Homo sapiens: one gene and its partners. The protein of the gene in region 1 interacts with the protein of each later gene in a pairwise test. Each region holds a gene or a part of one and is shown in the gene's direction. Other genes may lie near its edges.

What was found.
Region 2: the proteins of HTT (region 1) and MGARP interact in binary tests that used the Homo sapiens proteins (3 or more experiments, as listed by UniProt).
Region 3: the proteins of HTT (region 1) and MKNK1 interact in binary tests that used the Homo sapiens proteins (3 or more experiments, as listed by UniProt).

What each region holds. Positions count from the first base shown.
Region 1 is NC_000004.12:3,126,648-3,130,298, forward strand, and holds part of HTT (huntingtin), read left to right. Parts: intron 1-616; coding exon 617-957; intron 958-3,276; coding exon 3,277-3,400; intron 3,401-3,651.
Region 2 is NC_000004.12:139,270,115-139,273,765, reverse strand, and holds part of MGARP (protein MGARP), read left to right. Parts: intron 1-3,651. UniProt on the Homo sapiens protein: Plays a role in the trafficking of mitochondria along microtubules. Regulates the kinesin-mediated axonal transport of mitochondria to nerve terminals along microtubules during hypoxia.
Region 3 is NC_000001.11:46,559,167-46,562,817, reverse strand, and holds part of MKNK1 (MAP kinase-interacting serine/threonine-protein kinase 1), read left to right. Parts: coding exon 1-169; intron 170-1,144; coding exon of another isoform or gene 1,145-1,175; coding exon 1,176-1,340; intron 1,341-2,540; coding exon 2,541-2,584; intron 2,585-3,006; exon of another isoform or gene 3,007-3,148; intron 3,149-3,651. UniProt on the Homo sapiens protein: May play a role in the response to environmental stress and cytokines. Appears to regulate translation by phosphorylating EIF4E, thus increasing the affinity of this protein for the 7-methylguanosine-containing mRNA cap.

The sequences.
Region 1 (3,651 bases):
GACCCAACTGCCCCAGGAGTGACCACTGCCAACAGCTTCATGTCGACCTTTTTGCCATAATTTTTATATAGCCTTTTTTGTTTTTAAATGGTAATTTAGAAAGTCAACTAGGAAAATGTGTTACAGGTTTATCTTCCAGGAGAATAGGACTGGAGTCGAGATCTTGAATGTGGCTTGGAAGAAGGCAAGCCCACCCCAGAGAGATGAGTTGACAGTTGTTTCTGACCACTGCTTGCTTAGAGGGCCTGCGTGTCTGTGACCGCCTAGCTTTGCGCCCCTGACTAGGCTGCCCCTTAATTACAAATGTCTTTATATATTGCTCCAGCTAAGGCTTGGAGTAGTCGGTTAAGAACTTGAACTTCGGTTTTTGCAGTGAAACAGCATTTGAGAATATCACCTTCTGATAAGCCTTATTTTATAAGGTGGGTACTGTAGTGGGAGGCAGTGTGAGAGATGCTTGAAGGATGCACTGCTGTCCTGCATTTCAGCATCTTCAGGATGCTGTGCAGCTGAAACATTTGATAACGGTGGAACTGTTCGTTATTTTGCAAGCCTGTGATTCCCTATTGAATGTTTTCTCTCGCCATTTGACAAATGAGTGTTTCTCTGTCTTCAGCCTCAGTGAAGGATGAGATCAGTGGAGAGCTGGCTGCTTCTTCAGGGGTTTCCACTCCAGGGTCAGCAGGTCATGACATCATCACAGAACAGCCACGGTCACAGCACACACTGCAGGCGGACTCAGTGGATCTGGCCAGCTGTGACTTGACAAGCTCTGCCACTGATGGGGATGAGGAGGATATCTTGAGCCACAGCTCCAGCCAGGTCAGCGCCGTCCCATCTGACCCTGCCATGGACCTGAATGATGGGACCCAGGCCTCGTCGCCCATCAGCGACAGCTCCCAGACCACCACCGAAGGGCCTGATTCAGCTGTTACCCCTTCAGACAGTTCTGAAATTGTAAGTGGGCAGAGGGGCCTGACATCTTTTTTTTTATTTTTTATTTGAGACAGAGTCTCACTCCATAGTGCAGTGGAGGCCGGGCACAGGGGCTCATGCCTGTAATCCCAGCACTTTGGGAGACTGAGGCAGGCGGATCACTTGAGGTCAGGAGTTCGAGACCAGCCTGGCCAACATGGTGAAACCCTGTCTCTACTAAAAATACAAAAATTAGTTGGGCGTGGTGGCACATGTCTGTAGTCCCAGCTGTTAGGGAGGCTGAGGCAGGAGAATTGCTTGAGCCTGGGAGGCAGAGGTTGCAATGAGCCGAGATCGTGACACTGCACTCCAGCCCGGGCAACAGAGCAAGACTCCATTTCAAAAAAAATAAAAAAATAAAGTGCAGTGGCTCGTTCTCAGCCCACTGCAACTTCTGCCTCCCAGGCTCGAGCGATTCTCCCGCCTCAGCCTCCTGAGTAGGTGGGATTACAGGTGGGCACCACCACACTCAGCTAATGTTTGTATTTTCAGTAGAGACAGGGTTTCACCATGTTGGCCAGGCTGGTCTCAAACTCCTGACCTTAGATGATCCACCCACCTTGGCCTCCTAAAGTATTGGGATTATAGTTGTGAGCCACCATGCCCGGCCCTGCCACCTGCCATCTTTTGAGTTCTTCCCTGGAGACCTAGACCTGAACCCTCCTGCTTGTTCTCTTGTTATCTAATACCCCTATTGACAGCGCAGCTTAGATCATTAATGGAGAGCTTGACCTCATCTGATACCTTCACTGAAGGAAACAACTTAGTGTCTTTTGTGTTGAACACTGAGGTAAAAAATTGGAATAGTTGATTATATGAACTCTGCTAAAATTGAGTGCATTTTACATTTTTTAAGGCCTTGTTGGGCCCTGGTTAAATAATTATTTTTAAAAATCCTTAAGGAGCCTATTATAAACAGATCTGTGGTCTTAATGAAATGTGATTAATACTGTGCATTATTTTAAGAACTTTTGACTTTTCAAAAAACTTTTACAACATTTCCCATTTGATAGCGGCATAGGTTTAAGCACTTCTCATCTCTAAGTTAGTGGACAAAAAACCCTCATGGATAGTCTAATAATGTTTGCTACAAGTCCATGTTGAGTTTTATACTCCATTTTATTTTCAGTTTTAAAAACTGTGGTTAAATATGTGTAACATAAAATTTATGTTCTTAACCATTTTTTGCGTATACAGTTCGCTGGTATTAAATACATTTAAATAATGTCATGGAATCATTGCTACCACCCATCTCTGTAACCTTTTGATCATGTAACACTGAAGCTCTGTTCCCATTGAACTCTATTCCTCCTTTCCCGCCAAGTCCCTGGCAACCACGATTCTTCTTTCTGTCTTCTGAATTTGACTACTTTGGGTTCTCATATACTTTAGGAGTCACACAGTATTTGTTTTACTTAGCATAATGTCCCCAAAGCTCATGCATGTTGTAGCCTATGTTAGAACTTCCTAATGTTTCAGGCCAAATACTATTCCATTGTATGGATAGGCCACATTTTGCTTTTCCATTCCTCTGTCCATGGACACTTGTATTGCTTCATGTTTTAGCCATTGTGAATCATGCTGTTATGAACGTGGGTGTACAGATAGCTCCTGGAGACTCTGCTTTCCATTTTTTTGGCTAAATACCCAGAAATGGAGTTGCTTTTACATTCCAATTTTAATTTAAAACATTCATATCATTGAGTGTTTTACTTAATAGTATAGTAGTTAACAAACTTAATAAAATAGTATTTTGGTAATAATTTGCTGGTAGTCCATTGTTCAGTTTTTTTAGGTAAATTACACAGGACATTTCAAGTGGACATGAAACATCTTGTGATGTGGAATCATGCCCCAAGCTGATGGCTAAACATATGAAATACCATACCCTAAATTTAGTAGATTTAGTCTTTGCAATTTAGGAGATAACCTGTTATATTGTTAGGTTTTTGTCGAAAAGCTTTGTCCTCATATTTCCAACTTGCTGTAAAATTTGTTTGTGAAGACAAATATTTTTGTATGGGTTTTTTCTTTTTCATATTAAAAAGAAATGTCCACATTGGAATTTTTTTGGAGTTTTTAGAGCTAATAGAGCTTTTCATAATGTAGTGGGAATGAGTGATCAGTAAGCTCTTAGCAGTTTCCATGCGTGCATTTCTGTGCCTTGAAATAAATGACAGATGAGTACATTTGTGTTCTGTGTGTAAAATGTGCTCTTTCCTCATTGCACTTCCATGTTGGAGGGCTTGTCTCTTGGTGATCACACTTCAAAATTCTCACAGCCCCCCTTGAACCGTTTAGGTGTTAGACGGTACCGACAACCAGTATTTGGGCCTGCAGATTGGACAGCCCCAGGATGAAGATGAGGAAGCCACAGGTATTCTTCCTGATGAAGCCTCGGAGGCCTTCAGGAACTCTTCCATGGGTATGTGGACTACAGGTGATGCGCTACAAAGTGGTTTGTATTCAGACCTGGACATCTTAATTATATCTTTGCTTCCAAGAAGAAGTCCTTTGATACTGTTTTCTGAGTTCTGAATAGCTGATGAAAATGACCAATTGAGGAATAATCATACTTTTTCTTGATCTAAATCTTATACTTTTGAGTTATCTTAGCATAAATGTATAATTGTATTTTAAGTGGAAATTTGTCACTTAATCTTGATTTCTCTGTTT
Region 2 (3,651 bases), about 140 Mb from region 1:
AAGGTGGGCAGATCACCTGAGGTCAGGAGTTCAAGACCAGCCTGGCCAACATGGTGAAGCCTCATCTGTGCTAAAATACAAAAATGAGCCAGGCATGGTGGCAGGTGCCTGTAATCATAGCTACTCAGGAGGCTGAGGCAGGAGAATCACTTGAACCCAGGAGGTGGAGGTCGCAGTGAGCTGAGATTGTGCCACTGCACTCCAGGCTGGGTGAGAGAGCCAGACTCTGTCTCAAAAAAAAAAAAAAAAAAAAAAGAATAAAAGTAATGCGGTGGCTCATGCCTGTAATCCCAGCACTTTGGGAGGCTTGAGTCCGGGAGTTTGAGACCAGTCTGGGGAACACAGTGAGACCTCATTTCTACAATAAAAAATAAAAAAATTAGCCCAGCGTGGTGGTGTGTGCCTGTGGTCCTAGGTACTTGGGAGGCTTTGATGGGAGGATCGCTTGAGCCTGGGAAGTTAAGGCTGCAGTGAGCTGAGATTGCACCACTGCACTCAAGCCTGGTCAACAGAACAAGACCCTGTCTCAAAAAAAATAATAATAAATAAAAAAGAATAAAAGTAGAGCCTGTAGTGGTGGCTTACGCCTATAATCCCAGCACGTTGGAGGCCAAGGCAGGAGAATTGCTTGCAGGAGTTTGAGACCTGCCTGGCCAACATAGCGGGACCCCATCTCTACAAAAAATGTAAAGAATAAAAGTAGAATAAGCAGAAATTCTTTGTAAACTCTAAGAGTACACAGTCACTATATTTTGGTTTGGACCTACGGAAATATGAATAAAGCCGGGCCGGTGGCTCACACCTGTAAACCCAGTACTTTGGGAGGCCAAGGTGGGTGGATCACGAGTTCAGGAGTTCAAGACCAGCCTGGTCAAGAAATGGTGAAACCCCATTTCTACTAAAAATACAAAAATTAGCCGGGCGTGGTGGCGGGCACCTGTAATCCCAGCTACTCTGGAGGCTGAGGCAGAGAATTGCTTGAACCGGGGAGGCGGAGGTTGCAGTGAGCCAAGATTGCACCACTGCACTCAGCCTGGGTGACAGAGTGAGACTCCGTCTCAAAAAAAAAAAAAAAAAAAGAAATATGAATAAAGAGATGTTTAGTCATAACTAGAAGCAGTTTCATAGGACTATGTAAGATGGCCAAACCAAACCAAACCAAAATACATATTCTAATCCTCAGAATTTTTTTTTTTTTTTTTTTGGGAGGGGACAGAGTCTCGCTCTCGTCCAGGCTGGAGTGCAGTGATGCAATCTCGGCTCACTGCAAGCTCCACCTCCCGGGTTCACGCCATTCTCCTGCCTCAGCCTCCTGAGTAGCTGGGACTACAGGTGCCCACTACCACGCCCAGCTAATTTTTTTTTGTATTTTTAGTAGAGACGGGGTTTCACTGTGTTAGCCAGTATGGTCTTGATCTCCTGACCTCGTGATCTTCCTGCCTCGGCCTCCCAAAGTGCTGGGATTACAGGCATAAGCCACCAAGCCCGGCCTAGAAATTTTTTTAAGGCTAGTCATAATCTTCAGAATTTTGAGAGCCTCAAGGAGTCAGGAAACTGCAAACTTGTCACTTATATTGTTGTCCTCTACTAATCTGCCAGCTTTCACTTGTGCCCAGATTCCTTTGTTCTGTCATCTTTCTACTGTTTAATGTTGAATTCATGGCTCAAACCCACTCTAGTTGAGGTGTAGGCCACCAAAAAAAAAAAACAGAGATTGAGACTAGGCCATGTGATAGGCTGGGAAGCTAGAAGGATGAATTTCATTTGGACATCACTATACCCCTGATTATATTAATATGTACCAGTGCCAAAAACAAACTTTGCCAGACTGCTAACTCACTGGTTGCAAAAGGAATCTTAAACTAAAAGGTTATACATTTATAAACCAGCCATCCCTGAGAACCCTTTCTGGCCTTGTTCTCTCACAGTAGGGATGGAAGTTGTTCCCTTCCATTTCTAAGTTTATGTGATTTTAATCTCAAATGTTGGAAGCCTTAATTGCCAGGAATCTTAGGCTACTTTCAGGAGGAAATGCTGAATGTAAGGCACTCCAAAACCTGTATACTTGTTCTCCCCTTCCATTTCATGTCCTGTACTAAAATAATCTCTATATTAGATTTTTATGAATTGACCCCACAGATGCTTAGTAGCCAAAAGCAGTTTTCCATTTGCAATCAAAATCCTCGACTATTAGGGGTCATTGGAATCTGAAAGAGGCCCAGATCACTCCAGTTTTTTTGAGGGTCTGGGTATCTCTTGTCCCCCAGGCTGGAGTGCGATGGCGCAATCTCATCTCACTGCAACCTCCGCCTCCCGGGTTCAAGCGATTCTCCTGCCTCGGCCCCCTGAGCAGCTGGGATTACAGGCGCCTGCCACCACGCCTGGCTAATTTTTGTATTTTTAGTAGAGATGAGGTTTCACCATGTTGGCCAGGCTGGTCTCGAACTCCTGACCTCAGGTGATCCACCCGCCTCGGCCTCCCAAAGTGCTGAGATTACAGATGTGAGCCACCATGCCCGGCCTGGTCTGGTATATCTTAAAAAGTAGTACCAGACTGGCTTATAAAAATTGTAGTATATTTTAAATGCTTATACTTAATAAATACTTAATATCATTTGTAAATAACTGCCAAAGTCTAAATTTGAGACCCTCTCTTTTAATAGGCCTTTATTCTACTCTGTGCTCGACTGTGCTGGATTTGGAAAACCTAGATTCTTTGGGCCACACATTAGGGTGAATTATTCTAGTATTGTATCTCTTCAATTCTCCCTAAAGTTAGTCTTTTTTCTTGCCTTGTGTTTTAGCCCCTTGAGCAATGAGACTAATGTCCCTTGGAATGTTGTTCCTGGAATGATCCTTTCAGGGATGTGAACTTGTGTACTGGTTCGGTTTGTGTACTGAGAACTGGGGATACTGACTTATCATATTGGTCCTACAAGGTGTCAGGAACACACACCCTACTCGGAAAATATTCCTTGCTTTTATACAGAAAATGTTGATTATCATTCCCGTTGATCATATTTGCTCTGTATGTTTCAAAGCCAAATGATTCAAGTCTGAGTTCACTAAACCCCGGGAAGTTTGCTATAAAAGGGTCACTTTACATCACTTCTACCCGACATTATAGATTTTCTTTTCTTTTTTTTTTTTTTTTTTTCAGACGCGGTCTCGCTCTGTCGCCCAGGCTGGAGTGCAGTGGTACGATCTCTGCTCACTGCAAGCTCCACCTCCTGGGTTCACGCCATTCTCCTGCCTCAGCCTCCCGAGTAGTTGGGACTACAGGCGCCCGCCACCACTCCTGGCTAATTTTTTGTACTTTTTGTAGAGATGGGGTTTCACCATGTTAGCCAGGATGGTCTCCATCTCCTGACCTCATGATCCGCCTGCCTCGGCCTCCCAAAGTGCTGCGATTACAGGCTTGACCCAGATTTTCTTTTCTTTTCTTTCTTTCTTTTTTTTTTTTTTTTGAGACGGAGTTTCCCTCCTTTCCCAGGCTGGAATGCAATGGTGCGATCTCGGCTCACTGCAACCTCTGCCTACAGGGTTCAAGTGATTCTCCTGCCTCAGCCTCCCGAGTAGCTGGGATTACAGGCATGCGCCACCACGCCCGGCTAATTTTGTATTTTTAGTAGAGACCAGATTTCTCATGTT
Region 3 (3,651 bases), on another chromosome or scaffold:
TGAGGTAGTGGAGGTCTTCACGGACCAGGCCACATTCTACGACAAGCGCTGTGACCTGTGGAGCCTGGGCGTGGTCCTCTACATCATGCTGAGTGGCTACCCACCCTTCGTGGGTCACTGCGGGGCCGACTGTGGCTGGGACCGGGGCGAGGTCTGCAGGGTGTGCCAGGTGAGTGCGGCCCCAGGGAGCACTGCGTAGACCCTGCTAGGGGTCAGTGTGGTTGGGGGATGCCAAGCAGGACTGGGCTGGGAGAGCGTTCCTGATCGGGATGGGGGCTCATAGTGCCCTCTCCCGCTCCTGTCACGGTGGCCACAAGGTAAAATAGAGATAATCAGACACTCCGCCCAGCTGGGAGTTCAGGGCAGGATTGTTAGAAGATCATGCCTGAACTGACTCTTTTTTTTTTTTTTTTTTTTTTTTTGAGATGGAGTCTCTCTCTGTCGCCCAGGCTGGAGTGCAATGGCACGATCTCGACTCACTGCAACCTCTGCCTCCTGGGTTCAAGCGATTCTCCTGCCTTAGGCCTCCCAAGTAGCTGGGACTACAGGCGCCGGCCACCACGTCTGGCTAATTTTTTATATTTTCAGTAGAGACGGGGTTTCATCGTGTTAGCCAGGATGGTCTCAATCTCCTGACCTTGTGATCCTCCCGCCTCGGCCTCCCAAAGTGCTGGGATTACAGGCGTGAGCCACCGCGCCCAGCCCTGAACTGACTCTTAAAGGGTGCATCCTGCCCTGCGGAAGAGGGACAAGAATCACAAGTAGAAGGAACAGCACGGGCATAGATGTGGGCACATGAAATAGCTGGAGTGTCTAGGAAGGAAGAGTGGAGTAGTAGGTCGGTGGTAGTGGGAGATGAGGCCTGAGAGGTTCACAGAGAGTCCTCTAGGAAGAGCCAAGGAATTTGGGCTTTGTTCTATGGGTGATCTCCACTCATCACCCATCCAGCCCACCAAGGGCATAGCCATCCTGGCCTGCCAAGGGCATTCTATATAGTTTGATCATCTAGGGGACAGTGCGGGGTGAGTCTGGGAAGAGGCCCCAGTCTGTGGCATCCCCAAGCCATGAGCTGCAGCTACAGCTGAGATCAATTGAAGCCGGTTGATCAAAACAATGACAGGCACATCCTGCCCATCCCTGGCAGTGTGGCCTCAGGAGGAATCTTTTGTACCTAGAACAAGCTGTTTGAAAGCATCCAGGAAGGCAAGTATGAGTTTCCTGACAAGGACTGGGCACACATCTCCAGTGAAGCCAAAGACCTCATCTCCAAGCTCCTGGTGCGAGATGCAAAGCAGAGACTTAGCGCCGCCCAAGTTCTGCAGCACCCATGGGTGCAGGGGGTGAGTGACTCCAGGGAGGGGTGTTTTCCACCACTTCAGGCCTGTGGCATGGCCACAAGGAAGCTGTCATGCCAGCAAGTGCTGAGCACCAGCCTTGTGGCTGGTGCAGCTGAAGAGGACAGCGTCTATCCCTGAGTGTGTAGAGTGAATCGACTCCTCCTGTTACCCCAGACTGAGCCCCTTATAGGCCATAGAGTTGGCTGTAAACTTGGCCACAGACTAAGCCCCAACAGAGTCCTCTGGGGATTTGGTACATGCACCCAGCCCCGCAAGCATCCTATTGTCATTTGAAGTCTGTAGCATCCTCCTCTTATATAGAAGCATCATTAGCTGAGGACACCCAGAAGTGAGCAAGGCCGTGCTGCGCTGATTGTTGTGTGGCCGAGTTGGGGCACATAGGTTCTCCTCATGGTCTGGGAGTCTGGGTACAGCTGGCCTGAAAGGCAAATGATCGTATTTTTTCCCTAAGCTTAGAATTCATGTCTTCACTAGAAAACATTTTTAAAAATCCTCCTTGGCTACTCACAATACCTGACCTCTGCCCTCCAAGGGGTCTGCCAGATGCTCCCATGACTTTCTGGTCTCCTTGGTGTGCCAGGCTCTGGCCAGCCTCAGTGACCCTACCAGTGGAAGGAGGCAAGCATTGCCATCCTATGTTGCAGATGGGGACCCAGTTTGAGTGTCTAACTGGCTCATTCCCAGACCCATAAGTGAGCACCTGCCACATGCCAGAGGGACAAGTGAGACCCAGTCCCTGTCTCTGTGCTCTAGTGGAGAGAAGTAGACAAGGGGATAAGTTACAGCATGATAAAGGCTTCTGAAAAGTGCTAGGGGCACAAAGGGAGCAAGACCCCACTCCCCATCCCGGGCCTGAGACTGAGGCAGGAAGGTGGCAGGGAAGGGGAAATGTGCGTCACAGGGGAAGTGACCCTTGAGCTGGGTCCTGGGGGATGATTAGGACTTTGCCAGGCAAAGGGAAAGAGGGGCTCTCCATGCAGAAGCAGCTATGTTGGGGGCTGCGGCTGCAGATTGTACCTTTCTTGCTCTCTGCTTGGAAGGCCTGACCCTGCAAGCAAGCATAGCCATTTCCCTGTGCTGCGCCAGCAGCCTATAGTAACCTACCCACTGCTGGCTTGGGTGGGGCAGTTCTTGAAAGGAGGGAGCAGTGCTTTACCTACACATCTGTCCTTCCCATTCTAGCAAGCTCCAGAAAAGGGACTCCCCACGCCGCAAGTCCTCCAGAGGTAAATGCTCTGACCACCCCCACGCCATGCTCTTCCTCAAGCTCTCAGCCACCATGGGGGTGGGGGCCGGGGGAGCCCATCTCTAGGCTCAGGTAGCTTTCTCCAAAGGGGCTCCCTGCCCATTTCCCCTCCTCACTCTCTTTTCCTCTACTCTGGATCTATCTCCCACCCTTCCCTTCCTTCACCTAGATTGGATCCTCTGCCCTCCAGCACCTTAAGGCCCCTCCTAGCACTGTTGGCAGGAAAAAAAACCTGTTTTGCCCATTGAACTGTAACTTACAGCCCAAAGACAGACCTTACCCATGGGTTATTCACACAAGGCTTCCCTCTGCCCTTGTATTTAATGAAAGGAGCAGAAGTGAGGGGCACGTACGGTACTAGACGGACAGTGATAATAGTGGCCACCAGGATTAAGTCCTTACCATGGCCAGGCATGGTGGCAGGTGCTGTAATGCCAGCTACTTGGGAGGCTGAGGCAGGAGAATCGCTTGAATCCAGCAGACGGAGGTTGCAGTGAGCTGCGATCACGCCACTGCACTCCATCCTGGGCAACAGAGCAAGCATCTGTCTCAAAAAAAATAGTAAGTCCTTACCACATGTCAGACGTGGTGCTAAGGGCTGGATATAATTATATCCATAATCTTCACGATGAATTTAAGAGAGGTGTTCTAGATGAGAGAGGTGAGGAGTGGCAATCAAGTTAACTTGCTTAAGGCCACACAGCAGCCCTGGGCTGTTTGACTCTGGAGCCCTTTTACAGCTGGACTGCCCTGTTCCCAAAGAGCCAGGGCTAAGCAGTGTGGGAAACCTTTTTGGCACCAGCCTCATGGCCAGCTTTTAGGAGCTACACAAGGAAGTCATACACCTCCATAATCGCAATTCGTGTGACCCAGTTGCTATTGCCCAATTTGGGTTCCTACCTGACTCTCTAGAGCAGCCTCCAGATGCCTTTAGATGCCAAACCTCAGATCCGCCTTAGAAGATTTATTCTGCAAACCCAAAGTGCCTGTCCACGCTAGCCCTGAGCTAGGTGCTGGGGACGTGGCATAAGCGGCGCAGGCCTTGCT